Homo sapiens: one gene and its partners. The protein of the gene in region 7 purifies or fractionates together with the protein of the main gene of each other region. This does not show direct contact. Each region holds a gene or a part of one and is shown on either strand. Other genes may lie near its edges. The genes, in order: CEP72, CHLSN, TUBGCP2, TUBGCP3, PRKAR2A, OFD1 and PCNT.

Region 1 (4,351 bases), on a different chromosome or scaffold from region 7:
TCAGGTACGTTCCTTGCTCGTCAGTGCTGATATTCCAACTCCAAAGGAGTTGCACTGAGTTCTAGGTGCCTCTTTCAGATTACGAGGATACATATCTCTCTGAGAAAAGCTGAAAATACAGAAATGTGTAAGAGGGAAAATAAAGGGATTTATTCCACAATAGGACACATGTGTTAAAGTTTGTCTTTCAATCTTTTTACATATACTGTTAGAGGAAGAAATGTTTTGAATGACCCTTGTCAGGCACAGTGAGGAAGGCTTTATTCAGAACCATTGAGGTGGGCCTGGGGCCACTGCGCTGGGATTTTGCAGTGGGGGAGAGAGATGGAGCTCAACTCCAAGTACAGCAGGGGCCGGGGGGAGTTTATAGCCTAGGGTCAGGGTGGGGGCAGTGGATGGAAAATGACTGAGAGGACACATGAGGAGTAAGGGGATTTGGGCTAAACCAACTGAACAGGATTATTGCGAAAGAGAGGCCAGGGTGAGCAGACACCACCTATGGGATCTGGGGATGAGGAACCTGAGCAGATACTGAGGGTGGGGGTTTTGGCCGCACTAAACTGGACTTTACAAGGAAGGGCACAGATGGCCGAGGAGAAGATTCAGGAGCCTGAGTAAAGTTGAATTAAACCAAGAATCTGTGTCAGTTTCTACTCCATATCCAACACCAAGAACTTGACCGTTATTATAATTGTTTTCAAAATAAAAGATTAAAATCTTACAATTTTTCTATTCTTAGCTGAGCTTCAGTCATTGTCTATTCCTGGAACTTACCAAGAGAAGATCACCCACCTGGGACATTCTCTGATGAGTTTAACAGGTCTGAAATCTTTGGATCTCTCGCGCAACTCCTTGGTTAGTCTGGAGGTAAGTTTTAGGTCTCTTTCTTAAAATTTATTGCTATCAACATCAGTGGAAAGTCCATTCACAGCAGAAACGGAGTCTGTTTTGTAACCCTCTGCTTACATCTGTATACGGTACACTTTGTGTTGCGTATTTTTGTGTTTACCGTGGGCTACATTTCATACACATCACGTTACGTTGTGTTGTCGCCCTCTGATGACGATGATTATATCTTTAAAGGAAATGAAATGAGACCCCAGAGACTTACTGAGTGGCAGTGCAGTGGGCCTGGGGCTGCCTCCTGGGCTCCTGGCAGGGTCACCCTGGAGAGAGATGCCTAGGTGGTGGTGAGGGGAGCTGTGCACAACTACCATGGCCTGATTGGCCCTGACAGAACCGTGGGATGCGCCTGCCCTGAGCCCGATGCCTGAGCATTATGGAGGCTGCGTCTGCATGGCCTGATTGGCCCGGACAGAACCGTGGGATGCGCCTGCCCTGAGCCTGGTGCCTGAGCATTATGGAGGCCACGTCTGACACCAGCTCGGGAGTCTGCTCCAAGTCAGATGCGGACCTAGCCCAGGCTACACCCAGTGCTGCCTCATCTTTCCCCGTTCCCAGGCCTCAGCTTTCTCATCTGTGAAGGGGGGGCTGATGGTTCTCACCCTGTAGGGCGGCGTGTGGATTAAATGAAATTGTGCGTGCACATCACTCAGCTTGCTGCACGCTGAGGCCTCGGTAGATATTAGCTGTGCTTAGTTGCGTCACATGTGGGTTCCATAAACGACCGTCTCACCGCGTGGGGCCCAGAGAACTTCACAGATGAGAACGTTTCATTTTTCTACTTTTCCTGGTAATGACATGGAGTTATTGCAAATAAGTTTATACAGTTGGTTGGTCAGTGTGTGTTGCTGGCTTATTTCACTGTGTATTTCTTGTTTAAAGTGTGAATGAATTCACTGTGTTTTCTGTTGACAGGGCATTCAGTACCTGACTGCATTGGAGAGTCTCAATCTCTACTACAACTGCATCTCCTCGTTGGCAGAAGTGTTTCGGCTCCACGCCTTAACCGAGCTCGTGGATGTGGACTTCCGGCTGAACCCCGTGGTGAAGGTTGAGCCTGACTACCGCCTTTTTGTTGTGCACCTGCTCCCCAAGCTCCAGCAGCTGGGTAGGCATCAGGCAGGGCCACGCTCATGCTTTTGTCCCCGTGGGGTATGGGAGTCGGGGAGTCGTAGTGGGTGTCTGTGTGCTCAACGTCACATGCTTGATTCCTTCTGGAACGGGGAGTTGGTTTTCTACGCTGGTGGCTTGAGTTCCTGCAGACACACAGCTCGAGAGGCCCTGTGTCTGCACAGGACAGGGCTGGAAGTTGAGCACCCTGGGAGGGCGCAGGGCTGGGGCCGTGGGAGCACAGCCCCGGACCAGGCTGCTACGTCCTGTTCTGGCTCTCCGCGTCATGGCTGTTGGACTTGGGCACGTTCCTGAACATCTCCTGTCCTGTTTCCTCGCATAGCCCCCAGGTATCATCTCAGGTGCAGCTAAACAGCAGGATGCTGCCTGGTTTTGCCCCACTTGGAAGCACACAGGACAAGCAGCTCATTGTCCCCCACACCCCACCACTGGGACAGGGTTGGGAGGGGATGTGCAGTGACCTTTGGATCATGCTCCTGAAAGAAAAGGCTTTCCATGACAGTCTTGTAGGCAGAACTTCCAGGGCCCCCACAGCGATGCCCAGTAGGGAGGGTCCCTGGGTTGGGGCAGCCGCAGGTCACCTTCCCATCTGCCTCCTGCCTCCCCGGAGGCATTGTTGCTGTTGCTGTTGCTGTGAGCACCTGGTGGTGTCTCTGCTGACCCTACCCCGAGTCACAGATCCAGGAGAGAAAGCTGGGGCCTCAGCCCAGGGGCACACTGACCAGAGTCCATGGGGAAGAAGAGGGTGCAGGGTCTCTTACCTCAGTCCTCCTGTGTGAAGTGGGGGGATAAGAATGCTGTGTTGACATGTCGTGGTGGGGAGACCTGAGTTAATATCTGTAAGCTCCCAGACTGCCCGGCATGGCCAGGGGCCTATAAACGTTCCCTGGTTGCTTCTGTTGTTAGGGTCAGACCTACCATGCACCGCTGTTCGAAAGCTGCCCCTCCTTCTGAACCTAGGACCTTATCAAAAACAAAAGAATCACAGAATCCCAACTATCTTGTTAGAACAAAAGACCAACAGAATCACAGAGGACAGAGCACTTTCCCCCACTGCGAGTGCCCTGAACAGGCTGTTTTCCACGGCTGTGGGGAGCATTCAGGTTCTCTTAGAGAACTGAGATTTGTATGTCAATTTCAAGTAAACAGCAGCTAAAGCACGTTGGTGGGTGATGTGCCTGGCCCCTGGGTACTGCCCGTTGTGGGCGTCGGGACTGAGGGCCAGCTGGGGTTTTGCCACCCACCAGATGAACACCCGGCAGCCCTCACCCTGTCAGCCCCATGAAGTTCGTGTGACGTCAGCAAAGCTGCACACCAGAGGTGGGAAAACAGGTGGAGGAGCACCTAAGCGCCTCAGCGAGTAGACCGGGAAGGCTGTCTGGGGCCATCGTGGAGCCATGCGGGGCCGTGTCACCTCATCACAGGGAGGACTGGCCTGCGGTATCTTGATGGTGATGTGATCACACATGTGTTTGTATATGGAATTCTCACATTTTATTTTATTTTTGAGACATAGTCTCGCTTCATCGCCCAGGCTGGAGTGCAGTGGCGTGATCTTAGCTCACTGCAACCTCCGCCTCCCGGGTTCAAGCAATACTCCTGCCGCAGCCTCCCAAGTAGCTGAGATTACAGGTGCGTGCCACTGTGCCCTGCTAATTTGTGTCTTTTTAGTAGAGATAGGGTTTTGCCATGTTGGCCAGGCTGGTTTCGAACTCCTGGCCTCAAGTCATCTGCCCACTCTGGCCTCCCAAAGTGCTGGGAATACAGGCGTGGGCCACTGAGCCTGGCCAAATTCTAACATTTTAAACTGCACTGCTTTGCTACTTGGAGAAGTTTCTGGAGATGCTGGAAAGAGCTGTCAGCATGCAGCACACACACCCTCTGTTTGGTGACAGTGTAGGTTAGTGGTATGGATTGAAATCTGTTTAAAGGAGTCCTCTTGGAAGAATGCCCCAGTCTGCCACAGTTTGACCATTTTTCAGTAACTAACGATCAAAACAATTTTTCTCTGACCTTCTAAAAGTGACTTGAGGAGCTGACAGTATCCCTGGGTCCTGGTGGACTTTGCTCTTGCAGGAGCTCAGCTCCCCTGGGCACTGGGGGCTGGCAGTTGGCAGTGGCAGCATCGGATGGGAGGGCAGCAACTGGGGTGGCATTTGCTGCTCTGCAAGGGCTGGGAGGCACTCAGGGCGTCTGTGTGGCCAAAGTGAGACCTAGCTCCCAGCATCACTGACAGGGAAGACCCTGGCTCACCCACTCATGTGGCAAGTGCTGGGCCCTGGACAGGCCCTGCGGCTGGGCTTCCAGAGCCTGAGCA
Region 2 (3,722 bases), on a different chromosome or scaffold from region 7:
ACGTTACTAGAGGCCAGGCTTTGCGTGCGCGCTGGGGGCAGGGGGCGGTTTTCTCCTGCCGTGCCTGTGTTTGCAGACTCTCAGAGCGGGGCAGGCCCACCAGCCCCACTCACAGCCCTGGGACATTCCAGGCATAGCCTGCAGCCACTTGCTTTCATTATTTTGTTGTTTTTGTTTTTTTGTGGGCGTTTTTTGAGACAGGGCCCCGCCCAGGCTGGAGTGCAGTGACACGACCACAGTTCACTGCAGCCTCGACCTCCTGGGCTCAAGCCACTCTCCCTCCTCAGAGTTAGAGGACATACACATTGCAAGCCCTATTGCAAGCCGATTGTAAGCCCTATTGCAAGCTCCGGTAATCGCGACACTGGGGCAGGCACAAGGGTGGAAGTAGAATTGACTGGAACAGCCTGGGAAGCCTGGAAACCCTCACGCCCGGCGCAGCTGATTCCAGCATGCGGGCCAAGCCTGTTCCATGTGGAGGAAACCTCTTCTTAACAGAGCCAGGGACAACTGGGTTTCCACGTTTTGTTTTGTTTTAACCAAAGTTTACGTGGTTTTATTTATATGTTACTATTACCAAAAGTAAACTTTATACAAAACTTTTTATACAGAAAAATAATCCTTGGTTAGGCAAATCCTTGGTTAGCCATTTATATGTGTGTATACACACACACACACACGCAAAGTTATCTTACACTATTGTAATTAAACATATTTACAAACACACAAATGTGCATTTTACTTATACATTTTTATTTCATATGTAACCGTACATATTTACGAACATGCCGATACTTAATGCACGCAGCCCCCAGCTTCAAACCATATGCAAAAATTAACTCAAAATGGATCAGAGACTTAAATTTAAAAGCTAAAACCAAAACTCTTAGATGAAAGCCTAAGAGTCCATTTCGTGCCCTTGGGTGAGGCAACAGTTTCTTAAATGTGACTCTAGAAGCACAAGCGACAAAGGAAAAAGTCGAGAAAGTGCCTTCATCAGGATCTAAGACTGTGTAGCCGGGCGTGGTGGCTCACGCCTGTAATCCCAGCACTTTGGGAGTCTGAGGCGGGTGGATCACTTGAGGTCAAGAGTTCGAGACCAGCCTGGCCAACATGGCAAAAACCCCGTCTCTACTAAAAATACAAAAATTAGCTAGGTGTGGTAATGCTTGCCTATAATCCCAGCTACTTGGGAGGCTGAGGCAGGAGAATTACTTGAACCTGGGAGGTGGAGATCGTGCCACTGCACTGCAGCCTGGACAACAGAGCAAGACCGGCTCAAAAAAAAAAAAAAAAAAAAAAAGAATCTAAGACTTTGCACTGCATACAGAACTAGCTGGAAAGTGAAATGGTTGCTACAGAATGGGAGACGTTTGCAAGTCCCACATGGAATTAGAACTCTGCTAACTCAATAATAAAAAGAGCCCAGTGTTGAAAGCCGCTGCCACAGGGACCTGAGGAAACGTGCCTGCAGAGCAGATTGTCAGGTGACTGGTGAGCCTGTGCAGAGGTGCCCCCACCACCAGCAGACAAGGGTCAGGCCACCAAGAGATGCCACCTGGCCACTGCCGCCCTGAGCAGAAAGGCGAGCGTGCCAAGTGCCGGCGCGTACTTGGCTTTTTGTTCTGAATGCACCTTTCATCACCGCCTACCCCTGTTTAATTTGTGTCGTATTTTCTCGTTTTTCTGAGGATTTTTACGATGTTTGTGAAATGTTCTCCCCACATGGCTTCTGTTTTACCCAGGTTAATTGAGTGTTTTGTCTGCCTCTAAACAGGCATTTCTTCTTCCAGTGTCTGGGGCAGGGTCTGTGGCCAGGCCGCCCACACCCTCGGGCCGCAGTGGGAGGACGGAAGCCTGAGGCCCGGGTGTCCTTGGCTGCAGCGTCTTGTCTCCTGCTGTTCAGCGGCCCCTCCCTGCCCCGCCCCTGACCAACTCGATCTCTTTCCCGTCCAGGTTCCCGATGAGCACTTCTCCACCCTGCTGGCCTACCTGGAGGGGCTGCAGGGCCGGGCCCGAGAGCTGACGGTGCAGAAGGCGGAAGCCCTGATGCGGGAGCTGGATGAGGAGGGCTCTGATCCCCCCCTGCCGGGGAGGGCCCAGCGCATCCGACAGGTGCTGCAGCTGCTCTCCTAGTGGGTTCAGCGCGGGGCGGGGCCGCTGCCCAGTGCAGGGCTGCCTCAGACCACACAGGGTGCAGCTCCTCCGGCGGTGGGGGCCGGGTTCACCAGCAGGGCAGCGGCTGAGCAAGGGCTTTCAGCTCCTCCGGTGGTGGGGGCCGGGATCACCAGCACCAGAGCCTCGCAAGGGCCCCTTCCCTCCTCCAGACCCTCCTTGGCCGGTGACGGCTGTGACAGTGATGGCAGGTTCAGTGCCTTCAGCGCAGAGCGTGGATGCTCTGGAATCACCCGGACCCCTGGCCTTGGAGGGACCCTCCAGCCCCAGGAATCTGCTTTGGAGGGAAATGTCTATTTTTCTACCGGGAATATTTTAGAGATTGGGGCATGCTGGCTCCTCCCGCCAGCTGCAAACCTGCACCTTCCGCCTGATTCCCGATCCCCCTGCGTGGGCCGCATTCCTGGTCCCCTGCCTGCGTCCATCGAGGGGCCTGGCTGTGGCCTGTTTTCCTTTGACCCCACACAGCGTCATTGCGGGTCATGGGGAGCCCCTGGTGGGAGCTTGTGGAGTCGGATCACGTACCTGTGCAGAAACCGCCTCTGTGGCTGCATTTGAAATAAAACCCGACCCAGCAGCAGCCGTGGGTCCTGCTCTGTGCGGTGCGTCCCCTGCCTGTGGACTGCGGAATTCGTGTCCCCCATGCCAGCGCACGCCAGGCTGAGACCCCGCCCTTGGTGGCCACCCCAGGATGGCATTGGGGGCGCTCTGTGTGTGGCGTTCCTGGCAGTGGGTGCTGGCTGATCGCTTGCGTTCAGGCCGGCCGTTTCCCAGCGCTGGCAGTGACTGACCCTGCCAGGAAACACACTTAGGCCGCACAGAATCAAGCCACACACTTCCTGTTCCCAGCAGCACGTGGTCCCTGCCCCCAAGTGATGTGAGGTGCCGCGGGGCACCGGGAAGGCCGTGGTGACCGCAGAGCTCTGGGCAGCTGCCGGGGAGGGCCGGGTGGCCATGGCGAGGAGGTCCGTGCCCCACTGTGAGGCCAAGTCTGTTCCAGGATGGGCCCCGGGGAGGGCTGAGGCCAGTGGCTCCGGTCTGGGCCTCCACAGAGCAGACACCCAGGTGCTGCTGCCCCGGGGCCGCCTCCTGCCCAGCCCAGGTTGGGGGTTTGTGCTGCCGTCTCAGTGCTCCCCCAACTGACGGTGGAGCAGAAAAGTAGCTGCAGCCGCCACCTGGCAGCCTTGGGACGCTGGCTCAGGCCCTGAGTGCCCCCTTGGGTGCCCCGCCCCCCAACAGAGCTCCTGAGGCTGAGGTCAGGCTGCCTGCCTTGGCTGCCACCAACGCACAGAGCTGCATGCAAGCCGGGAGGCGGGAGCACGGCCGGCCTCACCCTGTGAGAGCAGAGTCACAGGCTCCGGGCTGTTGTTGTGGGGAGGGCCTGGGGCTTCCCGTGGCCACTGCTGGCCTGGCTGGGCCTCCTCAGCCGTGGCCCTCGGGGCCTGCACCTCAGAGCGGTGACTGGCCTCACTGTGACCCACGGACGTCTACTGTGACTTCCTCCTTAGCTCCCTGAAGACACCCAGGGCTGGGCTAAGATGTGGTCT
Region 3 (4,351 bases), on a different chromosome or scaffold from region 7:
CAAGGTGAGCACTGCCCTTGGTGTAGCGCTGTGCAGGGTGAGCACTGTTCCTGGGTCAGGGTGGTGCAGGGTGAGCCCACCCCTGGGTCAGGGTGCAGGGTGAGCGCCGTTCCTGGGTCAGGGTGGTACAGGGTGAGCACCATTCCTGGGTGAGGGTGCAGGGTGAGCCCACCCCTGGGTCAGGGTGCAGGATGAACACTGTTCCTGGATCAGGATGGTGCAGGGTGAACCCACCCCTCAGTCCATGTGCAGGATGAGCGTCGTCCCTGGGTCAGGGTGCATGATGAGCACCGCCCCTGGGTCAGGGTGCAGGGTGAGCGCCACCTCTGGTGCAGGGGGCAGGGTGAGCGCCACCTCTGGTGCAGGGTGCAGGGTGAGCGCCACCTCTGGTGCAGGGTGCAGGGTGAGCGCCACCTCTGGTGCAGGGCTGTGCGGGGTGCAGGGTGAGCGCCACCCCGGGGTCAGGATGGTGCAGGGTGAGCACTGCCCCTGGTGCAGGGCTGTGTACCGTGCAAGATGCAGGGTGAGTGCCCGTTCCTGGGTGGCCTCAATGGTACCGGCAACGATGGCAGACAGCACTTGGTCTGTGTGTGTGTTCAGCTCTGATTCTCCTGACTCCCCCCAGCAGCTCCTGTGATTCACCCCACTGTGCAGATGAGTAAATGGAGGCCTATGGAGAAAGCTGGGCCTAGAACCCTCCCTCTTCCCCACTCTGTCCCCTGCAGCCATGAGGTGGGAGAGTCCTGACATGTGCATTCCTGTGGATAAAAAGGGAGGGACTGGGCCAGGCGCGGTGGCTCACACCTGTAATCCCAGCACTTTGGGAGGCTGAGGCAGGTGGATCACAAGGTCAGGAGATCAAGACCACCCTGGCTAACACGGTGAAACCCCGTCTCTACTAAAAATACAAAAAATTAGCTGGGTGTGGTGGCGGGCACCTGTAATCCCAGCTACTCGGGGGGCTGAGGCAGGAGAGTGGCGTGAACCCGGGAGGTGGAGCTTGCAGTGAGCCGAGATATCGTGCCACTGCATTCCAGCCTGGGCGTCAGAGTGAGACTCTGTCTCAAAAAAAAAAAAAAAAAAAAAAAAAAAAAAGGGAGGGACTGGTATTAACCATGTTGAAATGCCTTTAAGGTATTATTTCTTTATTCAGATAATATGTAATTCAGAAGTATAGATTTTCAGTAAAAATGATTTTGAATTTGAAGTCTATTTTAAAAAATACATTATGAAGCTTCAGTTATTTAAACAGGTTAACAATGGCACAAGGATAATTAGGCAAATTAGCCGAGTGGAATAGAGACTTGGGGACACCCATGTTTAGTTCATTCTGAAGGAAGCATTGTAAATCACTGAGTAAAACATAACCCCTGCTGGGCACGGTCGCTCACACCTGTAATCCCAGCCCTTTGGGAGGCCGAGGCGGGTGGATCACCTAAGGTTGGGAGTTCGAGACCAGCCTGGCCAACATGGAGAAACCCCATCGCTACTAAAAATACAAAAATTAGGGCGTGGTGGTGCGTGCCAGTAATGCAGCTACTCAGGAGGCTGAGGCAGGAGAATTACTTGAACCAGGGAGGTGGAGGTTGCGGTGAGCCTAGATCACGCCATTGCACTCCAGCCTGGGCAACAAGAGCGAAACTCCGTCCAAAAGAAAAAGCATAACCCCTAGGGTTGCACATAATAACAAATTCCAGAGGGAACATAGTGAGGTGTATACAATGAACGCATAAACTACTGCGGGGAATACAGTGAGATGCAGACAATGAACGCATAAACTACTGGGGGGAAAAGGTAAGTCGCTACTCTCCAGTACAAACCTGAAGAAGCATAAAAGGGAACACAGTGAGATGCATACAATGAACGCATAAACTACTGGGGGGAAATGCAAGTTGCTACTCTCCAGTACAAACCTGAAGCAGCATAAAAGGGAATACAGTGAAATGTATACAATGAACGCATAAACTACTGGGGGGAAGTGTAAGTCGCTACTCTCCAGTACAAACCTGAAGAAGCATAAAAGGGCGGGCGCAGGGGCTCACACCTGTAACGCCAGCACTTTGGGACGAGGCAGGTGGATGGCTTGAGCCTGGGAGTTTGAGAGCAGTCTGGGCAACATGGTGAAATCCTGTCTCTAGAAAAAATTAAAATAATACGAAGAAGCACAAAAGGAAAGGAACCATAATGGGAAATACGGATAAGGTTTGTTTTGTTTTGTTTTGAGACAGAGTCTTACTCTGTCACCCAGGCTGGAATGCATGTGGCACGATCTTGTCTTACTGCAGTCTCAACCTCCCAGGCTGATGTGATCCTCCCATCTCAGCTTCCCAAGTAGTGACCACAGGCAAGTGCCACCACGCCTCGCTAATTTTTGAATCTTTTTGTAGAAATGGGGTTTTGTTATTTTGGCCAGGCTGGTCTTGAACTCCTGGACTCAAGCAGTCTACCAGCCTCGGCCTCCCAAAGTGCTGGGATTACAGTCATGAGCCACTGCCTAGCTCAAAACATGGATAAGTTTAACACAATATGGAGATGAGTTTTGTTAGTTTATTTCAGAGGGATAATTATTTAACCTACCCAATTTAATTCCATTGGCTTATTGTGTTCAATTTTCGTAAAGGTTTTTTTTTACAGTGCTTTATTAATTACCGTCATTAAATCACTCATGTTTGTGCTTTTGAGGTTAAAATTGCAGAGTTTTCTCGTACTCCAGAAGACTTTCTAAAGAAATATGATGAACTGAAATCTAAAAATACAAGGAACCTTGACCCGCTGGTGTACCTGTTGTCAAAGCTCACGGAAGACAAAGAGGTAGGTGCCCATGCCACGTGCCACACTGCGCCCGTACGGCCCATGTTGGGAGTGGGGTCGCGTCTCCTGCTCACTCCACGCCATCTTCCTGTCAGCTCTTCCTCGCTCACACCAGTAACGCTTCTAGGCCATGTAGGAAATTTTTGGTGAATCAGAATGAAAGATAACCCATGTTGGGTGTAAACATGAGAAGCAGCCTCTGGGGCACTTTGAGCTTCCCGCATGTGTCACGCTCAGTTCCTGCCTGTCGCACGCGTCGCTTTGCTATTAATGGGTGCCTGTCAGGGTTGGGGAGCCGTCCTGGTGGTGTCGTCCCTACTCTCCCCCTATGGCCAAAGAGGTGCTGGCCCAGTGTGAACACACAGTTTTACATGTTTTCAGACTCTGCAGTACTTACAACAGAATGCAAAAGAAAGAGCTGAGCTTGCAGCCGCTGCTGTGGGCAGCAGTACCACCAGCATCAACGTCCCTGCCGCGGCCTCCAAGATCTCCATGCAGGAGCTTGAGGAACTGAGGAAGCAGCTTGGCAGCGTGGCCACAGGCTCCACGCTGCAGCAGGTACTGCGTCCATGGCTGTCCACAGGCTCCATGCTGCAGCAGGTCCTGTGTCCGTGGCGTCCACAGGCACCCACACTCAGTGCTGTGCCGGGCCCCTGCTGGAAGGACATGTCTCTCTGTCATTTATTGAAAATGAATCCCTTAGAGAGGCCAAGGCTTAATGCTTGATCATGACCTAGCTCTATATGTTTAGTTTTTTTTTTAACCAAGAATTCTGGACCACAAGAATCAATAGCAGCAAGGTTCTGACCCACGTGGGAGTTGTGCTGCCAGGTGGCCACGTGACTCTGAGCCTACCCAATCCTGACTCCCCATTTCCCTCCTCCAATTTTTGACAATTTTGAGGGAATGCTTTCAGATCATTATATTTTCAAGATTCTCGAAAATACAGTAATTTTTATTATTCCTTCTGTATTTGCTACTTGCTCTTGGTTTTGATTTTATGCCCTACCCTGGTCTTTTGACGTAAGTCATCTCCCAGTCTCTCTCATTAGAGCTGCCACGTTCCTGCCTTTGTGACCTTTAAACTCCCTTTGGAGCTGTGTCCCTGAGGCGTCCTAGCCTCCTGGGTGCGTGTTGAGTGCAGCGGCTCCCAAGGACCCAGCCGGTTCTTGCTGGGCACGTTCTGTGCTGGACATGGTGCTAGGCCTCTGTCCACGTCTCCCTCAGCCGTGGCAGAAGACTGGGTCTTACTGCCACGTGCAGAGACAGTTTGCATCTGCCCGTGTCCCTGACCAGCCCTGAGTGGGAGTCAGTGCTTCCGAAAGCTGGGCCAGCCCAGGCCGACCCCATCAGCCTCTGGCGGCCACTGGCGCAGGAGGGCAGGCTCTCTGACCACATGTCAGGAGCCATCCTGTCACGCTGGGGCCCTTCTCCGGCAGGGTAAGGATGCATGTCTGTTGCTGAAGCCTGTCTTCACCCATCAAGTGGTGTTCAGACCTAGTCACTGCCAGAAAGAAGCAATTCAGCTTGTTCACAGGGC
Region 4 (4,351 bases), on a different chromosome or scaffold from region 7:
AGACCACATGCTGCTTAGCCACAAAGAAGGGCTGGACAGTGGAGATGCCACGGCTCCTATTAGCTGCCCCCTGTCAGGCTCCAACAGGAGGAGAAGCAGCAGCAGCTCCCTCCCAACCATGCACTGTGCCATCGGCAGTGCCCACCCAGGGCTGTCCAGACAGCCATAGCCAGGATTCCCATCTCCAGCTTCGGCAGTGTTCCCAAATCCTGCCTCACCGTGCTGCCTGGGGAATCACGCAGCTGGGAGTGTCCCCTGTTGGCAGGCCCCGTCCCAGCAGGGCCCCTCCTCAACCTTCTGGAGGAGGCAGCAGCAGCTGGGCAGGGCCCCCTTCGAGCGTTTGGAATCGGGCAATGCCAGCTCCCCATGGCCAGCTCTGTCTCACCATTTTCTCTGTATTTTACAGTCCTCCAGCAGTTCCTGAGCCAACCTGCTGTATTCAGTGTCCTCATCAGCACCTACTGTGGTTTCTACTGTCTTGAGTGGACCCTGAAAGTTGACTCTCAAAGCTGCTTTACTTGGAAAGAGCCTTAGAAGGAGCTATTTCACAGTAAGATTTCAACTAGAGTAAGCGTTTCCCAAAGTGCGCAGCATCCCAGCATCCTAGGAACCATGAACGCACCTGCCCGACGAGTCCGAATGAGCGGTCCAGGCTCCTCTGGTCCGTGTATCTTCTGATTTTATTATGCAACCATCCCAACTCAGAAAGCCTGACTGCTGTGTCTCTCAAAGACCTACTTAGATTTGCCTAAAAAGTAAATACATCAAATGTTAAACATTAAAAAGCAATACTAGAGCTTTAATTAGTATTTTTCTCAAGCACTTCTACTTTTAATACTATAATCCTTAGGCTTCAAGACATAAAAGTTAAAACTAAGATCCCATCACTAAAGGGAAGGAAAGCACATTAAGTGACAGCATGATGGAAAGCACCTCAAAGGGCATGGTGAGCTCATTTCACACCACCCTGCAGTTGGCCTGCGGTGTGGCAGAGAAGGTCTGTGATCTCAGCCACGCTGTGAAAGGGCTAAGAGCCACAGTGTGACCCACACCACAAGAAATGGGCATGGTAAAGGCAGATTATGGAAAAAGGAAACAAAAGTGGGTGAAGACCCCTGACCTGGAATCCTGCATCAATGCCGAAGGTGCCAAGGGACCTCTGTCCCCTGGGTGCCTCAGCCATCACACAGCAGGATGCAGAAATCAGCTATGGGGCAGCCCCATCAGTAGACGTGAGGAAAGGAGGCACACATTAATCACAAAGGGTCCCCATAACAAAACTGAACGAGCCACAATGGACAGAAATAGAAACCAGAATTCCACAGTGCAATTTCACCTCACAACCGATTCGCAAAACCCCAGTACCACCTTATCAATCAACAGCCACTATCTGGACTTCATGACATGTTTTTTCTTTCTGAATATTTTAACTTAGATTTTATGTTACTGTACCTTTCCTTCTACTTTGTAACAATTTTCAGTGTTGTTCATTTTGATGTTTTTGCCATCTATGCCCTGAAAGACGTACAAAATGTCCCTTACCAGAGCTGCTTCTGTAATTTCCATAGTACCTGCAAAATCATTTTTTAAAGACAGTAATTACTAGACAATATTTTAACAGACAATAGATATTATGGTGCAATTAGCTTCAGATTAGATATTTGCCACCCCGATGAAATTTACTAACTCAATAAATAAGCTCAAGATGAAAAAGAGTATGAGATTAGAAAGAAACAAGGCGAGTCTCAGTCTAGAGGTTGGCCTGCTGTGCCATGAACGCACAGCTGTCAAACACGACATGAATCTGCAGCTGTGGACAGAGGCTGGACGCGGGAGCCACACACAGGGACAGGCGGAGTGGGGCAGATGGTGGAGACTACTGCGGGGGCTAATACTGTGCCAGGATGTCCTCCAGCTCTCAGATGCTCCTCACCTTTGCATTCTACGCAAGGACAGGTACAGGTAACATCCAGAGCCATTTCGTAATCAGCAGATTACGAGCCAACAGGGAAACCCAATCCTCTGTTTTCAGGACACTCATGTTTCAAATGCTGCTAACTGTAGTGTTCTCAATAAAGAAACTCAAGCTTCCTTTTGGAATCTAGCAGGGCTTTAAAACCCTCCATGAGGTATTCATCTCACCATTCAGTAATTCCTCAATGACTCTCTTCGACGTGCCAGGCACTGTGCTGAGCACTGGCACCATAAATGAAAAGACATAGCCCCTCTGTGGCCTTAAGACTTTGGTAGAAGAAGGTGACTTTTACTGGGGGCCTAACCCAGCCTTAAAGACTTTCCCAGGGAAACGGCAGGATGAAAACAGACAGGGAGAATGTGATGAGGAACAGCAAAGACGAGAGATGTGGAGGGAGGAGGCCACATGGAAAAGCAGCCAAAAAGCAGACTGTGCTGGGAGGAAAAAGCCCAGGTGGCCTGGGGTGAAAAGCCAAACTCCCCAAGGCGCCGCAGACCACCAGGGACTCTGGACTTCATCATAAGAACAAGAAGAAACCACTAAAAGGTTTGAGGTGGGGCTCCTGGGCTGTACTTTAAAATAAGGAGAGGCTGAATTCCAAGTGTTCACAGAAAAGCTGTATTAACATAGATCCTTACTCACCACCCGTATCCCCTTCTCTCCTGGACCTTGTCATGTTGCGAGACACAGCACTGGGGACACCTTTTGAGGTAGTGGCTTGTGAAGAAGGCTGATTTGCAGTTAAAGTCCATGCGAGTCGTGACCCCAACTGCTGTCGAAGGCAATCTCCTACTCCTGGAGCTTGATTAGACTGTCTAAAAAAAGAAACATGTATTATCTTCTAATAGGCTATTCGCTGAAGAGACAAAAGTGTCCCTAGAAATTTCTCTTGTATTACTATCGTGAATTACATAAATTTATAAATCTGGTATAGCTGATACCATGACTTTACCCTAACCGAATATATCAATAACAGACAGTCCCAAGTCCCTTGAACTTGGTCAAGCCTCCTTGCGACCCTTGGCCTAGCATTCGGACCCAACACAGCAGTGGAAAAATCATCTTACTGCTACCTTACAATATATATTTCTTACCATTAATATCAAAATCTATTTGGCTTTTCTTTATAAACATATAACATACCTTACCCACCCCATAACCACTTTGAAATTCTCTACTTATTTTAACTTCAAAATCCACAACTCTCGTTCACTCCCCATGTACTGAGCAGAGGAATCGAGTCACTGTGACACTGCCCCAGGCGCCTGGCCTCACCTGTCTTCAGCCTTCAGAGTGCTCACTATGAAAAGAAACTGCAATTTTCAATTAACTGCTAAAGTATACAAACGTATAAAATCTAAGGCAAATGCATATTCAAGGTCAAGATGGCTTGTCAGCAATTTTGAGACTATGTCAAAGTTGTTTTTTGAAAAATGTAAGAACCTCATAGCTGATTTCTAATAGCGTCAGTTTTGACAGGTGCAACAAAAATATCACTTCCTGGGACTACAAAACACAAAAATGAGAACCTCAGCTGCTCTACAGTTTCCAGGTGCCAGAGCTTGGATTTAGTACTGGTGCAATACTGGGGGGGTTTATCCATAATCCACTCGTGAAGTAAGGAGAACAGGAAAGAACTGAAACAGTTCTTATTTTATTCCATTTTCATCAGGAGAGAAGTCAACAACATTCACTAAAACTATGTCTCTGGGCATAGTTCTAAATTTAAGAGGATGATTCTAAAAGACTTTCAGTTCAAAGTTCTCTATACAGATTTTTAATAGGATAATAATTCAAATTCTGAGGTATAAATGAGAATGTCAATTGATTCTTTTAGCTGGAACTTAAATTCTAGATTAAATGTGTCAAGTTCTGTTTTTAAATGCTTTGCGTTTTCTTCATAGAACACTAGACCCCATTGGTAATCCATATGTATAGAACACACATTCTGTTTTCGAGTATCTTGAACATAATTGAATAAATCACAAAATGATTTATAATTCTATTACACTCACATGGAAAACACCATTTATTTGATGCTAAATCCTTGGTCACTGTTTTTCTGGAAAAATATCTACTTTATGATAATCCACTTTAATGCGATTTCCGGGAACCAACTATGGCAAAAAGCAAAGCCACCCGTTTATCTACATATAGGAAGAATGTGTAATTAAAAACAAAGAAAAACAAAGTTCCATCCATGAATGACAATGGCGCCTGCTTGATTCTCAGCTGTAAATCCTGTATTTCTTGAAAACATGCTTGGACCACATACATAAAACCTTCGTTGTGCATTCCTGCATTTCATCATCTTAATTCATATGCACTAAAATGTCACGATCCTTAAAGACCTCAGCACTCAAGGAAAGTTCAACC
Region 5 (4,351 bases), on a different chromosome or scaffold from region 7:
AGGCTAAGGTGAAAGGATCGCTTGAGCCTGCAAGGGTTAGGCTGCAGTGAGCTATGATTGCACCACTATACTCCAGCCAGGGTGACAGAGACCCTGTCTCAAAAATAATAATAATAAAAATAAAAATTAGCCAGGTATGAAAAAAAAAATTAGCCACTTATGGTGGCGCATGAGCCCAGGAGCCCAGCTATGGTGGCATGAGCCCAGGATTTCAAGGCTGTAATGACCTATGATTCTGCTAATACACTCCAACCAGGGCAACAGAGTGACACCCTATCTTAAAAAATAAGAAGAAATGCAACTGACAAATACATGGAAAGATGTCCACTCAACATCATTAGTCATTAGAGAAATGCAAATCAAAACCACAATGAAGTACTACTTCACACCCACTAGTTTGGCTATAATAATTTTAGAAGACAGATACGTTCAGACAAGGATGTAGAGGAATTAGAATCCTCAAAACACTGCTGGTTGGAATGTAAAATGGTTCAGCCACTTTGGAAAACAGACTGGCAATTCCTCAAAAGGTTAAACAGAGCTACTATATGGCCCAGCAATTCTACTCCTATGAGAAATGAAAACAGCTCCACACAGAACTTGTACACACAAATATTCGTAGCAGCATTATTCATAATAGTCAAAGAGTGGGAACAATCTATATGTCCATCAACATATGAATGGATAAATGGTATATCCAGAAATGAATGGTATTTCCAGACAACAGAATAGTATTTAGCAATAAAAAGAAATGAAGTTTATTTAGAACAAGTGGAAAAAGGAAAAAAAAAAAAAAAGTACTGATACATGCTTACAACATGGATGAACCTTGAGTACATTATGCTAAGTGCCAGCGGCAAAAGACCACATATTGGCTGGGCACGGTGGCTAACGCCTGGAATCCCAGCACTTTGGGAGGCTGAGGCAGGCGGATCACAAGGTCAGGAGATCGAGACCATCCTGGCTAACACAGGGAAACCCCATCTCCACTAAAAATACAAAAAATTAGCCGGGTGTGGTGGCGGGCGCCTGTAGTCCCAGCTACTCGGGAGGCTGAGGCAGGAGAATGGCGTGAACCCAGGAGGCGGAGCTTGCAGTGAGCTGAGATCACGCCACTGCACTCCAGCCTGGGCGACAGAGCAAGACTCCGCTCAAAAAAAAACAACAACAACACATATTATATGATTCCATTTATATGAAATATGCAGGATAGGCAAATGGTAGAGACAAAAGTAGATTAGAGGATGCCTAGGGATGAGGGGAATGAGGGTGTTGGTGAGGTGATGACTAAAGTGTATGGTGACCGGGCGCAGTGGCTCACACCTGTAATCCCAGCACTTTGGGAGGCCGTGGTGGACAGATCACCTGAGGTTGGGAGTTCGAGACCAGCCTGGCCATCATGGTGAAACCCCATCTCTACTAAAAATACAAAAATTAGCTGGGCATGGTGGCACATGCCGGTAATCCCAGCTACTTAGGAGACTGAGGCACAAGAATTGCTTGAACCCAGGAGGGAGAGATTGTAGTGAGCTGAGATCTCACCACTGCACTCCAGCCTGAGCAACAGAGAGAGACTCCATCTTTAAAAAAAAAAAAGAAAAAAGAAAAGAAAAACAAAACAGTATATGGGACTTTTTTTGGAGTGAGGAAAAATGTTCTAAAAATTGTTATGGCGCCAGGCGCGATGGCTCATGCCTGTAATCTCAGCACTTTGGGAGGCCGAGGCAGGCGGATCACGAGGTCAGGAGATCGAGACCATCCCGGCTAACACGGTGAAACCCTGTCTCTACTAAAAAAAAAAATACAAAAAATTAGCTAGGCATGGTGGTGGGCGCCTGTAGTCCCAGCTACTCGGGAGGCTGAGGCAGAAGAATGGCACGAACCTGGGAGGTGGAGCTTGCAGTCAGCCGAGATCGCGCCACTGCACTCCAGCCTGGGCGACAGAGCAAGACTCCGTCTCAAAAAAAAAAATTGTTATGGTTGGTCAGGTGCAGTGGCTCATGCCTGTAATCCCAACACTTTGGGAGGCCGAGGCAGACAGATCACCTGAGGTCAGGAGTTCAAGACCAGCCTGGCCAACATGATGAAACCCCATCTCTACTAAAAACACAAACATTAGCCGGGCGTGGTGACACGCGCCTGTAATCCTGGCTACTCGGGAGGCTGGGGCAGGAGAATTGCTTCAACCCGGGAGGCAGAGGTTGCAGTGAGCCAAGATCACATCATTGCATTCCAGCCTGGACAACAAGAGCAAAATTCCGTCTAAAAAAAAAAAAAAAATTATTATGGTGACGGCTGCACACAGATATGAAAAACCAATTATACATTCTAAATAGTTGACTTGTATGTGAAGCATATCTCTATAAAGCTGTTACCTAAAAAAAAAAAAAAAAAATGCTGAGAGACCGGCAAGTATAAATGCTTTATGGTAATTACAGAAGTGAAACAATTCTGAATGTCGATTTATTGTTTGTATGCAGCTACAGTAATTTATTAATAAGTTTATACTCTTCAGGCATCTCTCAACATTAAATACGCATTATAATACTTTATACTTTGAAGTTATGTCCTGTTTGATATTAAAGCTGTTATTAAAATAACAGCTAGTAAGTTTTTTGACTCTTTCCAATAGGATACAATTTTATAAACTGAATTGGTGGTTAGTCACAAGGACCTCACTAAGCAAAGCTTCCTTGCTATATACAGTTATTACATATGATACTTCTTGTTCTTTTTTTTATTGGCTCTGGAGTTGAAACATATCCTATTTCTAATTTAAGTAGTGTAGACTTATTCTAATGTCATTGGGTATACAATTCATTTTTTCTTCCTTTTTAAATTGTGGTAAGATGTACATAAAATGTGCCACTTCACCATTTTAAGTGTACAATTCAGTGTCATTAAGTACATACATTGTGCAACCATCACCATTATCCAACTTCAGAACTTTTTCATTATCCCAAACTGAAACTCTGTACCTATTAAACAATAACACCCTATTACACCTTCCCCCAAGCCCTCGGTTAGCTCTCTTCTACTTTCTGTCCCTATGAATTTAGCTACTCTGGTTACCTTCTGTAAGTGGAATCATACATTATTTGTCCTTTTGTATCTGGCTCATTTCATTTAGGATAATATTTTCAATGCTGTAACATGAATAAGAATTTCATTCCTTCTTAAGGATGGTCAGGTATGGTGGCTCATGCCTGTAATCCCATCACTTTGGGAAGTCGAGGCGGGACGGGTGGATCACCTGAGGTTGGGAGTTTGAGACCAGCCTGGCTAACATGGTGAAACCCCGTCTCTACTAAAAATACAAAAACTAGCCAGGCATGGTGGCACACGCCTGTAATCCCAGCTACTCGGGAGGCTGAGGCAAGTGAACTGCTTGAACCCAGGAGGTGGAGGTTGCAGTGAGCAGGATCGTGCCACTGCACTCCAGCCTGGGAGACAGAGCAACACTCGGTCTTATGTATATATATACCATATTTTGTTTATCCATTCATTTATGGATGTATACCTGGATACCTGGTTTGTTTTCACCTTTTTTTTTTTTTTTTTTTTTTTTTTTGAGACGGAGTCTCACTCTCTCGCCCAGGCTGGAGTGCAGTGGCACAATCTCGGCTCACTGCAAGCTCTGCCTCCTGGGTTCACGCCATTCTCCTGCCTCAGCCTCCCGAGTAGCTGGGACTACAGGCACCCGCCACCACGCCCGGCTTATATTTTGTATTTTTAGTAGAGACGGAATTTCACTGTGTTAGCCAGGATGGTCTCAATCTCCTGACCTCGTGATCCGCCCACCTCGGCCTCCCAAAGTGCTGGGATTACAGGCATGAGCCACAGGGCCTGGCCCACCTTTTTTTTTTTTTTTTTTTTTGAGACAGTTTCGCTCTTGTTGCCCAGGCTGGAGTGCAATGGCGTGATCTCCGCTCACTGAAACCTCCACCTCCTGGGTTCAAAAGATTCTCCTGCCTCAGCCTCCCGAGTAGCTGGGATTACAGGCGCACACCACCACACCCAGCTAATTTTTTTTTTTTAATTTAGTAGAGATGGGGTTTTACCATATTAGTCAGGCTGGTCTCAAACTCCTGACCTCAGGTGATCCGCCCGCCTCGGCCCCCCAGTGCTGGGATTACAGGCACGTGCCATGTTTTCACCTTTTGACTACTGTAAATAATGCTGCAATGAGCACTGGAGTATAACTATCTGTTTAACTCCCTGCTTAAAATTATTTTGGGTAGGCCGGGAACGGTGGCTCACACCTGTAATCCCAGCACTTTGGGAGGCTGAGGCAGGCAGATCACAAGGTCAGGAGTTTGAGACCAGCCTGGTCAATATGGTGAAACACCAT
Region 6 (4,351 bases), on a different chromosome or scaffold from region 7:
AATCAATCTGTAAATCGTGTGAAAGAACTTGAGGTAATTGTTAAGCATGTTGGTTTTTGAAATAGATTTTAAGCAATATATGAAATTTTAGTCATACATAATTTATCCTAAGTCATCCTGTTGAGATGTTTGGACTGCCATTTATATGGCTAAGAAGGTGTTAGCTGAAGTTAATTCAATAGTTCTTAATTTCAGTCAGTGTCACATAGGAAAGTGTAGATAGAGCTTTGGGTCCTGGAGTCCTGCCCACATCCTGTCTGTGTCTCTAACTGCTTGTGTGTCGCTAGGTAAGTTCTGTGACTGCAGGTTCCTGAGCTGTAAACTAGGATGTTTTCCACATTATAGGGTTGTTGAGGGAATTCAGTAAGCTAACTTATGTGCCTAGTTCATAGCAGGTGGCCATTACTATTAGTTTCTACATCAGCCTGTTATCTCCTTCCATCAGCAGCAGGTAAACAAAATTCCTGTCATTACATTGTTATCTTACAGATTAAAACAAAATGAGGTACATTTTTCACATATCATTGCTTCTTTACTTTTCTGTTCATTCGTGTGCTTGCTGTCTGAAGGATGAAGCTGGAACTTTAGGTACTTACAACATATTTTGTATATGAAATTTATTTTAGCAACTGTGACTTATGTGAGAACTTTGTAGGCTTTTTACTCAAATATGAGATATACTAAGAAAAGGGAAGCACTTCACAACATTTTACAGAATCTTTTTTCCTTTCTTTCCCTTTTTTTTTTTTTTTTTTTTTTGAGACAGAGTCTTGTTCTTTCGCCCAGGCTGGAGTGCAGTGGTGTGATCTTGGCTCACTGCAACCAACCTCCACCTCCCGGGTTCAAGTGATTCTCATGTCTCAGCTCCCAAGTAGCTGGGATTTCAGCCATGTGCCACCACACCCAGCTAATTGTTGTATTTTTAGTAGAGATGGGGTTTCACCATGTTGCCCAGGGTGGTCTCGAACTCCTGAGCTCAAGCAATCCTCTTGCCTCAGCCTCCCAAAGTGCTGCGATTACGGGCGTGAGCCACCATGCTCAGCCATTTTTATCTTACCTTTCATATTTAAAAAATATATATTGCTATGATGTGTGATTATTGTTGGGTTCTTGGTTGCCTCTGGAAAATGGGATGATAATCTTAGAAGGACTTGCTTCATGGGATGCGGCCTATAAAAGTTCTGCCCCAACTGTAGGGCGGAAGATAATTTTCGTTATTGTAGTTAGAGTCTTATTGTAGAGAATCAGACTTCTGTCTAGTGACCTTAATTAAATTGTGACACCATGCTTAAAGGAGCCTGCCAGCTTTTACTTTTGCAGTACTGTAAAGTCATTATTCAAATGTAAATTTTCCTTTTTGAATTTTAGCTTGAATTAGAGTCTGTCAAAGCCCAGTCTTTGGCAATAACAAAACAAAACCATATGCTGAATGAAAAGGTTAAAGAGATGAGTGATTATTCACTACTAAAAGAAGAGAAACTGGAGCTTCTGGCACAAAATAAATTACTTAAACAACAACTGGAAGAGAGTAGAAATGAAAACCTGCGTCTCCTAAACCGTATGTATTTTTCTTTTCTTCTGACTTGCGTGTTTTAGTAATTCGCATTAGGTCAGTATTATAAAACTATGCTTTGTACTTGTATAAGGTAGGGGGCTTACATTGGGAAGATTTATAAAATTAAGATTCTTGGATTAAACTCTGCAAACCTGCCTATAGGTGGTATCAAAGCTTCCCTTGCCCTCTGACTGCTGATTGGGTTTGGCCAGTGGGGACACCAGCCTCTACATACAGTGGCCCTAGGCTGGCCACTGTGCCTCATGGCCAAGTGAGGCCATAGTGCCTGCGATTACCTCTTCCAAGTGCTCTGCACCACCACCCTGTCTCTAGTGCTGAGAATTTCTCCCTCCTCTGATTCCCCAGGCCCAAGGAGCGCTAACAGTATGGCCCTGTTACTAGCCCACCCAGGGAACTCCACCATCCTTTGTGCATACCCTGAATAAGTCAACCTTTATTAAAGGGTTCTTAGATGACCTTGACCGTGAGAGCCATCTGCCTTCTGCCTGGATCCCAACTGCTGCTGTCAGATGCCCAGATCATATTGGATCCCAGGGCTGTCATCAACAGGTAGACCAGATAGAGAGCTCCTTCTGTGCACAGTAGAGGAGAGAAACAGGCTTTCAGGTTAATTTGAGAATTTGAAAGAGTTCTTTTACTTGGAGTAGGACTCCAAGGGTAATAAAGTTTGCATTAACATGCACTAAATTCTTTTGTTGTGAAATTTGAGAGTCAGGATTGCTCTGAGCTCATTTAATAGAATTATTATCATATTTATTGAGTCAGTACAAAGCAAAGAACACTTTAAAACCCCTTTAACTGTTTTTGTTAAGTTAAATAAGAAAACTTAAGGTTGGTAATGACTAGGATTTTTTTTTTTTTTTTACCTTCTTAGGCCTAGCTCAGCCGGCTCCTGAACTTGCAGTCTTTCAGAAAGAACTACGGAAAGCCGAAAAGGCTATAGTGGTTGAGCATGAGGAGTTCGAAAGCTGCAGGCAAGCTCTGCACAAACAACTGCAAGACGAAGTGAGTATTGCTCTTCTTCAGTTCTAGTGTGATACCAGTACACTTCATAGTTACGTAAACTTGGCACAAGTCACACTAGTGTAAATCAGATTTATTTTAACATCAAACATTACTCCCCCAAATATGCTAAAGGTATCCTTTCTCATCTGAGAAAATTCTGCAGTGATAACGTGACTTTATATTCGTAATAGTAATAAAATGGAGAAGAAAGCAAACTCACCTAAACATAAAATTTTCTGAGTGCCTGATGGTGCCCACTGTTATCTCTCGATTCTCACCCTGATAAGTATTACAAACATTCACTGTCTTCTGATTTCTGCCTGCATGCCCTAGAGTTCTTTGATATGACTGAAAAAGATGGTGAAGAACTTGTTTGTGTGTTCTGCTTGTGTTTTTTTTTAATAGGGACCCTGTTGTTTACTGTCATAAAGCTTCTTGGAATTGGCAGAACAAAAAGAGTACAAACATGATAAGAGAACTTTTCCTTTTGAAGCAAGCTGTGATTTGTTTTACATTGATTTCTTTTCCTATTCTGAATCTTTTCAGATTGAGCATTCTGCACAGCTGAAGGCCCAGATTCTAGGTTACAAAGCTTCTGTAAAGAGTTTAACTACTCAGGTTGCCGATTTAAAATTGCAACTGAAGCAAACTCAGACAGGTTAGAGACGTTTTAACCCATAAATATTTTTGTATGTATAAAGCTTCTGGTGTCTGTGAAAATGTAATGATCATAATTTATTGAATATTAATTATTGTTTTAGGGGAAAAGCCATAGAAATATGTGTCATCTTAGAAGTAAAACTCCCTATCCATTTTGGTAATACCATCTGGATCATCAGCAAAAGTATTTTGCTTCATAGGTGCCTCATGGCTTGGGAGAGTCTCATGCCCCAATAGGAAAGGCGTGGTGGTAACATAGAAGTCCCCATATTCATTATAGGATTTCCTTTTTTATTTGTTACCCCAATGTTAACACCAATTCAGTAGTTTTACGGATTCCTTGATAGATATATAAATATACAGGACAAGCAGGGTGGTTTAGCAAAAAGAATATTGCCTTCAGAATCAGAACTGTTCTTCTTTTGGACCCGTTTTGAAGTTGTTTGACCTTGGGCATGTTACTTTAACTTCCTTGGGCCTCAGTCTCCTCATTTGTAATGGGGATAATAATACCTACTGAGCCATGATGAAAAAGATGAAATGGGTTTCAGTCCAGTGCCTGGGACATAAAAGACACTCAGGAAATGGTTATTGGTATCATTTTATTATTGTGTCTTCACTGTGGATGCATCTCTGCCCCTTCCTACTTCGTAAGAAGGATATTAAAGTTCAGATACTTTATTCTTCAGTTGCTTTCAAGTTCAAAGAAAGTACGTATGTGTTACCAGTTCAACTGGGTCTGAGCCTTCCTTGTTCCCACCTGCATTGTTTCCTCATCAGCTCCTTGCTCTCTTCTACCAGCACTTGTTTTATTTTTATCTCTACTCGTTTCTGCTTTTTTCTGTTCCTCATTTTCTTTCAGTTCTGTTTGTGAAACTTCTCACAGCTGAAATCATAGCAGTCTCCTATCAATAAAAAATAGTTGAATGAGGATAGAACTCTTTCGCATGCATGTGTTGCCGAGGGCAAGCTTCTTTCTTGTAGCATCACGGGGAGGCATTGCAGGAGAGAGGGGCAGGTGCACTGGCTTTGCATTAGGAAAGCCCAGTAGCTCTTAGACTTGCTAACCGTGTGACCCAGCCTCAGTAAGCTTTAGTCCCCCCATCTGTA
Region 7 (4,351 bases):
CAGGCGGCAGCACGTGGGGCCTACAGGGTGAGCCTCTGCCTCCAGCTCTCTATGCTTCCAGTTTCCACTTCTAAAGAGAGGCCCTGCAGAGATGGAAGGTCCTCTCACTGGTTTGGATTTCTACAACATAAAGAAATCTTTTGACAAAGAATACACCTTAACAGAGAACTTAAAGAATACCTTTGTGAACATCCCACGCTGTTCTGCTGGGTGGTCACTGATTGTGAAGATCCCACGCTGTTCTGGTGTGTGGTCACTGACTGTGAACATCCCACGCTGTTCCGGTTGGTGGTCACTGATTGTGAACATCCCACGCTGTTCTGGTGGGTGGTCACTGACTGTGAACATCCCATGCTGTTCTGGTGGGTGGTCACTGACTGTGAACATCCCACGCTGTTCTGGTGGGTGGTCACCGACTGTGAACATCCCATGCTGTTCTGGTGGGTGGTCACTGACTGTGAACATCCCACACTGCTCTGGAGGATGGTCATTGACTTGCTTCTGCTGCAGCTGTTCCAAGTCCTCTCTCTTCTCTCCATCACAGTCCTCCGGCTAAGAAGGGGAGGACCAGAAAGAAGCATTTAAAGCAAGGTCTAGGGCTGCAGCCTCAGGCCCTTCCCAGCTCCTCTATCTGCAGGCCTGTGCTGACTTCATTTAACAAGTAGAGCTCACTTCCACCTGTTCAGAACGTGCACCTTCCGCATTAACAATTCCCAAGCTCTAAACATTTTTTTTTTTTTTTTTGAGACGGAGTCTTGCTCTGTCGCCCAGGCTGGAGTGCAGTGGCACAATCTCAGCTCACTGCAATCTCCGCCTCCTGGGTTCACGCCATTCCCCTGCCTCAGCCTCCCTAGTAGCTGGGACTATGGGTGCCCGCCACCACGCCCAGCTAATTTTTGTATTTTTAGTAGAGACAGGGTTTCACCATGTTAGCCAAGATGGTCTTGATCTCCTGACCTCGTGATCCGCCCGCCTTGGCCTCCCAAAGTGCTGGGATTACAGGCATGAGCCACCACACCTGGCCAGCTCTAAACATTTTTATAATGCAAGTAATTTCCCTAATGATGTTCCTGCCCCTCTTCTTAATGAATTCTACTTTTTTTTTTTTTTTTGAGACGGAGTCTTGCTCTGTTGCCAGGCTGCAATGCAGTTGCACGAACTCGGCTCACTGAAACCTCCACCTCCTGGGTTCAAGTGATTCTCCTGTCTCAACCTCCCGGGGGTTTCACCATGTTGGCCAGACTGGTCTTGAACTCCTGACCTCAGGTGATCCACCCGCCTCGGCCTCCCCAAGTGCTGGGATTACAGGTGTGAGTAACCGTGCCCAGCCTGTAATTTTTTTTTTTTTTTGAGACAAAGTTTCACTCCGTCGCCCAGGCTGGTGGCATGACCTCGGCTCACTGCAACCTCCGCCTCCGGGTTCAAACAATTCTCCTGCCTCAGCCTCCCGAGTAGCTGGGACTACAGGCGCATGCCACCACGCCCGGCTAATTTTTTTTTTCTTTTTTGTCTTTTTTGAGACGAAGTCTCACTCTGTCACCCAGGCTGGAGTGCAGTGGCACAATCTCAGCTCACTGTAAGCTCTGCCTCCCGGGTTCACGCCATTCTCCTGCCTCAGCCTCCTGAGTAGCTGGGACTACAGGCGCGTGCCACCATGCCCAGCTAATTTTTGTATTTTTAGTAGAATCGGGGTTTCACCATGTTGACCAGGATGGTCTCAATCTCTTGACCTTGTGATCTGCCCAACTCGGCCTCCCAAAGTGCTGGGATTACAGGTGTGAGTCACTGCGCCCGGCCATGAATTCTACTTTAAAAAAGAAATTTAATTAATTTTTTGAGACAAGGTCTTGCTCTGTCACCCAGGCTGGCGTGCAGTGGTGCAATCCCAGCTCACTGCAACCTTAACCTCCTGGGCTCAAGTGATCCTCCTGCCTCAGCCACCTGAGTAGCTGGAACTACTGGCATGCGCCACTGTGCCCAGCTTATTTTTTATTTTTTTGTAGAGACAGGGTCTCTGTTCATTATGTTCCAAAGCTGGCCTCAAAATCCTGGGCTCAAGCAATCCTCCCACCTCAGCATCCCAAAATGCTGGCAATACAGGCATGAGCCACAGTGCCCAGATTAGCTTGCTTTAACAAGATGATTCACTAAGAACATTTCAATTTCTTCCCAAAATAGCAAAGAAACATGACAGTGTCGACTTTTCGGGATCATTAGATGAGTCACAAGATGAATGCAGAGAGAGAGCACCCATGGCCAATGATGATGGCAAAACTGACGTGAAAATAAAATCTCAGACAAGTCTTCATTTGACAATACCCTAGATCAATCTTCTCAGAATCAAGAGGAAGTGAGGGACGAAAAGGGGACACAGTAGTCTCAATCAGCTGCCCGCTCACATGAATGATCACACTTCAAAGGAACCTGGACCATCCACTTCCTTAAGAGGACACTTCTAATGTTTGTGTGTCAAAACTTACTTGATACAAAGAGGTTGGATCAAATTTCTTATAAAGTTGTTTTAAATTATTGCTTTATTCTTACTTCTGTAAATTACGTGTAAAACAACTTAAAATGACAAAACAGTAAAACGGCCCAGAAATCTAGATGATAAATGGTGATAACTATTTTTCCTGGTATTTGATACAAATATGAGTTGGAAAAGTGCTAGAACCACACTTCTTAAGCCTTCTATAGCACTAGTTAAATCTTCTTCAGCCAAAGTTTTTGTATTTTCTTCTGAAATTCTTGACCTCTGAGCAATTTTTGGATGGTTCTCTTTTTTTTGGAGATAAAGTCTCGCTCTTGTCCTCCAGGCTGGAGTGCAATGGCGCGATCTCGGCTCAGTGCAACCTCTGCCTCCCGGGTTCAAGTGATTCTCCTGCCTCAGCCTCCCGAGTACCTGGGATTACAGGCGCCTGCCATGAGACCCGGCTAATTTTTGTATTTTTAGTAGAGATGGGGTTTCACCACGTTGGCCAGGCTGGTCTCGAACTCCTGACCTCAGGTGATCTTCCTGCCTTGGCCTCCCAAAGTGCTGGGATTACAGGCATGAGCCAATGCGTCCCGCCAGATGGTTCTTTTACCAAAAAATGGCCTCTCCTCACTTTGTTCCTCATCTGTAACTGAAAGGTCAAATTCTGCTTTCTACCATTGCTTTATTTTTATGATTTTTTTTTTTTTGAGACAAGGCCTTGCTCTGCCGCCCAGGCTGGCGTGCAGTGGTGCCACCATAGCTCACTGTAGCCTCAAACTCCTGGGCGCAGGTGATCCTCCCAACTCAGCCTCCTGAGTAACTGGGACTACACGTGTGCACTGTCATGCCCAGCTAATTTTTATATTTTTCATAGAGACAGAGTTTCAACCATCCTCCCACGTTGGCCTCCCAAAGTGCTCGGAGCCACCATGCCTGACCTTGCTTTCTGCCATTTCTGAGTTAACTTTCAGAACTGAGACAGCTGTTGCATTGTTTCAACTATTTTTCCATCATGCACTTAACAAATTGTAAGGCAACAGAGCCGAATCCTGAATATTTACCACAAAGTCTTTCTGCAATTCTACCTTCGCTTATAACCATCCTGAAAAAAAACTAAGATCTTAAAGTTGGTTAAAAATATGTCTTATATCAGCTGGGCACAGCGGCTTATGCCTGTAATCCCAGCACTTTGGGAGGCCGAGGTGGGAGGATCACCTGAGTCAGGGAGGTCAAGGCTGAAGTAAGCTGATTGGGCCACTGCACTCCAGCCTGGGCGCCAGAGGGAGGACCTGTCTCCAAAAAAAAGAAAAAAGACTTATGCTAGAAATCATCAGTATTTACCTAACAGTTAGTGATCAAAGTAAGCAATTTATTATATGTTGGAAAGCACAATAACTTCTCCCTCCCCCTCACACACACATACACACACTCTCACACACACACAAACACACACACTTATCTTCTTATGCTGTTCAATAAGCTCACTAGACTCTCCATAGCCAAACCTCTCACAATTTATAGATGGGTAAAATAAAACAAATGCACCTTTCATTATGTTTAAAGCACTGGTACAACTATAACATAAAGGTTCCTTGAGGATTCCTGATCTCCGACGCAGCATGACCAACCATCTGAGAGGGGAGTGCCCTGGCCTGGGACATTATTCGGCCACACGGCCACCAGCTGCTAGCTTTAAACAGTGGACTCTTTCCTAGAATTTCACTTTTCAGAAGATCATTATTTTGAACACAAAATTACTCCTATTTTAACATCTACAACTGGATTAAAGGCATACTAAACTCAAATATCATGAAATATTTTATAATACATATGAAAAAAACTCCTTTTTAGACTGAACTGATGATGTACAATGAT

What was found.
Region 1: the proteins of PCNT (region 7) and CEP72 purify together in Homo sapiens (affinity purification with mass spectrometry; one large-scale study listed by BioGRID and IntAct). This does not show direct contact.
Region 2: the proteins of PCNT (region 7) and CHLSN purify together in Homo sapiens (affinity purification with mass spectrometry; one large-scale study listed by BioGRID and IntAct). This does not show direct contact.
Region 3: the proteins of PCNT (region 7) and TUBGCP2 purify together in Homo sapiens (affinity purification with western blotting, with the first as the bait; one study listed by BioGRID). This does not show direct contact.
Region 4: the proteins of PCNT (region 7) and TUBGCP3 purify together in Homo sapiens (affinity purification with western blotting, with the first as the bait; one study listed by BioGRID). This does not show direct contact.
Region 5: the proteins of PCNT (region 7) and PRKAR2A purify together in Homo sapiens (affinity purification with mass spectrometry; one large-scale study listed by BioGRID and IntAct). This does not show direct contact.
Region 6: the proteins of PCNT (region 7) and OFD1 purify together in Homo sapiens (affinity purification with mass spectrometry; one large-scale study listed by BioGRID and IntAct). This does not show direct contact.

The regions. Positions count from the first base shown.
Region 1 is NC_000005.10:618,251-622,601, forward strand, and holds part of CEP72 (centrosomal protein of 72 kDa), read left to right. Parts: intron 1-739; coding exon 740-867; intron 868-1,818; coding exon 1,819-2,011; intron 2,012-4,351. UniProt on the Homo sapiens protein: Involved in the recruitment of key centrosomal proteins to the centrosome.
Region 2 is NC_000007.14:996,039-999,760, reverse strand, and holds the end of CHLSN (protein cholesin), read left to right. Parts: intron 1-1,956; coding exon 1,957-2,136; 3' UTR 2,137-2,327; coding exon of another isoform or gene 2,328-2,345; 3' UTR 2,346-2,755; downstream 2,756-3,722. UniProt on the Homo sapiens protein: Hormone secreted from the intestine in response to cholesterol, where it acts to inhibit cholesterol synthesis in the liver and VLDL secretion,leading to a reduction in circulating cholesterol levels. Acts through binding to its receptor, GPR146.
Region 3 is NC_000010.11:133,298,445-133,302,795, reverse strand, and holds part of TUBGCP2 (gamma-tubulin complex component 2), read left to right. Parts: coding exon 1-4; intron 5-2,682; coding exon 2,683-2,811; intron 2,812-3,192; coding exon 3,193-3,369; intron 3,370-4,351. UniProt on the Homo sapiens protein: Component of the gamma-tubulin ring complex (gTuRC) which mediates microtubule nucleation.
Region 4 is NC_000013.11:112,553,435-112,557,785, forward strand, and holds part of TUBGCP3 (gamma-tubulin complex component 3), read right to left. Parts: intron 2,791-4,351; coding exon 2,618-2,790; intron 1,572-2,617; coding exon 1,453-1,571; intron 749-1,452; coding exon 623-748; intron 1-622. UniProt on the Homo sapiens protein: Component of the gamma-tubulin ring complex (gTuRC) which mediates microtubule nucleation.
Region 5 is NC_000003.12:48,837,024-48,841,374, forward strand, and holds part of PRKAR2A (cAMP-dependent protein kinase type II-alpha regulatory subunit), read right to left. Parts: intron 1-4,351. UniProt on the Homo sapiens protein: Regulatory subunit of the cAMP-dependent protein kinases involved in cAMP signaling in cells. Type II regulatory chains mediate membrane association by binding to anchoring proteins, including the MAP2 kinase.
Region 6 is NC_000023.11:13,755,210-13,759,560, forward strand, and holds part of OFD1 (centriole and centriolar satellite protein OFD1), read left to right. Parts: coding exon 1-33; intron 34-1,368; coding exon 1,369-1,558; intron 1,559-2,450; coding exon 2,451-2,581; intron 2,582-3,127; coding exon 3,128-3,239; intron 3,240-4,351. UniProt on the Homo sapiens protein: Component of the centrioles controlling mother and daughter centrioles length. Recruits to the centriole IFT88 and centriole distal appendage-specific proteins including CEP164. Involved in the biogenesis of the cilium, a centriole-associated function.
Region 7 is NC_000021.9:46,330,598-46,334,948, reverse strand, and holds part of PCNT (pericentrin), read right to left. Parts: intron 553-4,351; coding exon 181-552; intron 1-180. UniProt on the Homo sapiens protein: Integral component of the filamentous matrix of the centrosome involved in the initial establishment of organized microtubule arrays in both mitosis and meiosis. Plays a role, together with DISC1, in the microtubule network formation.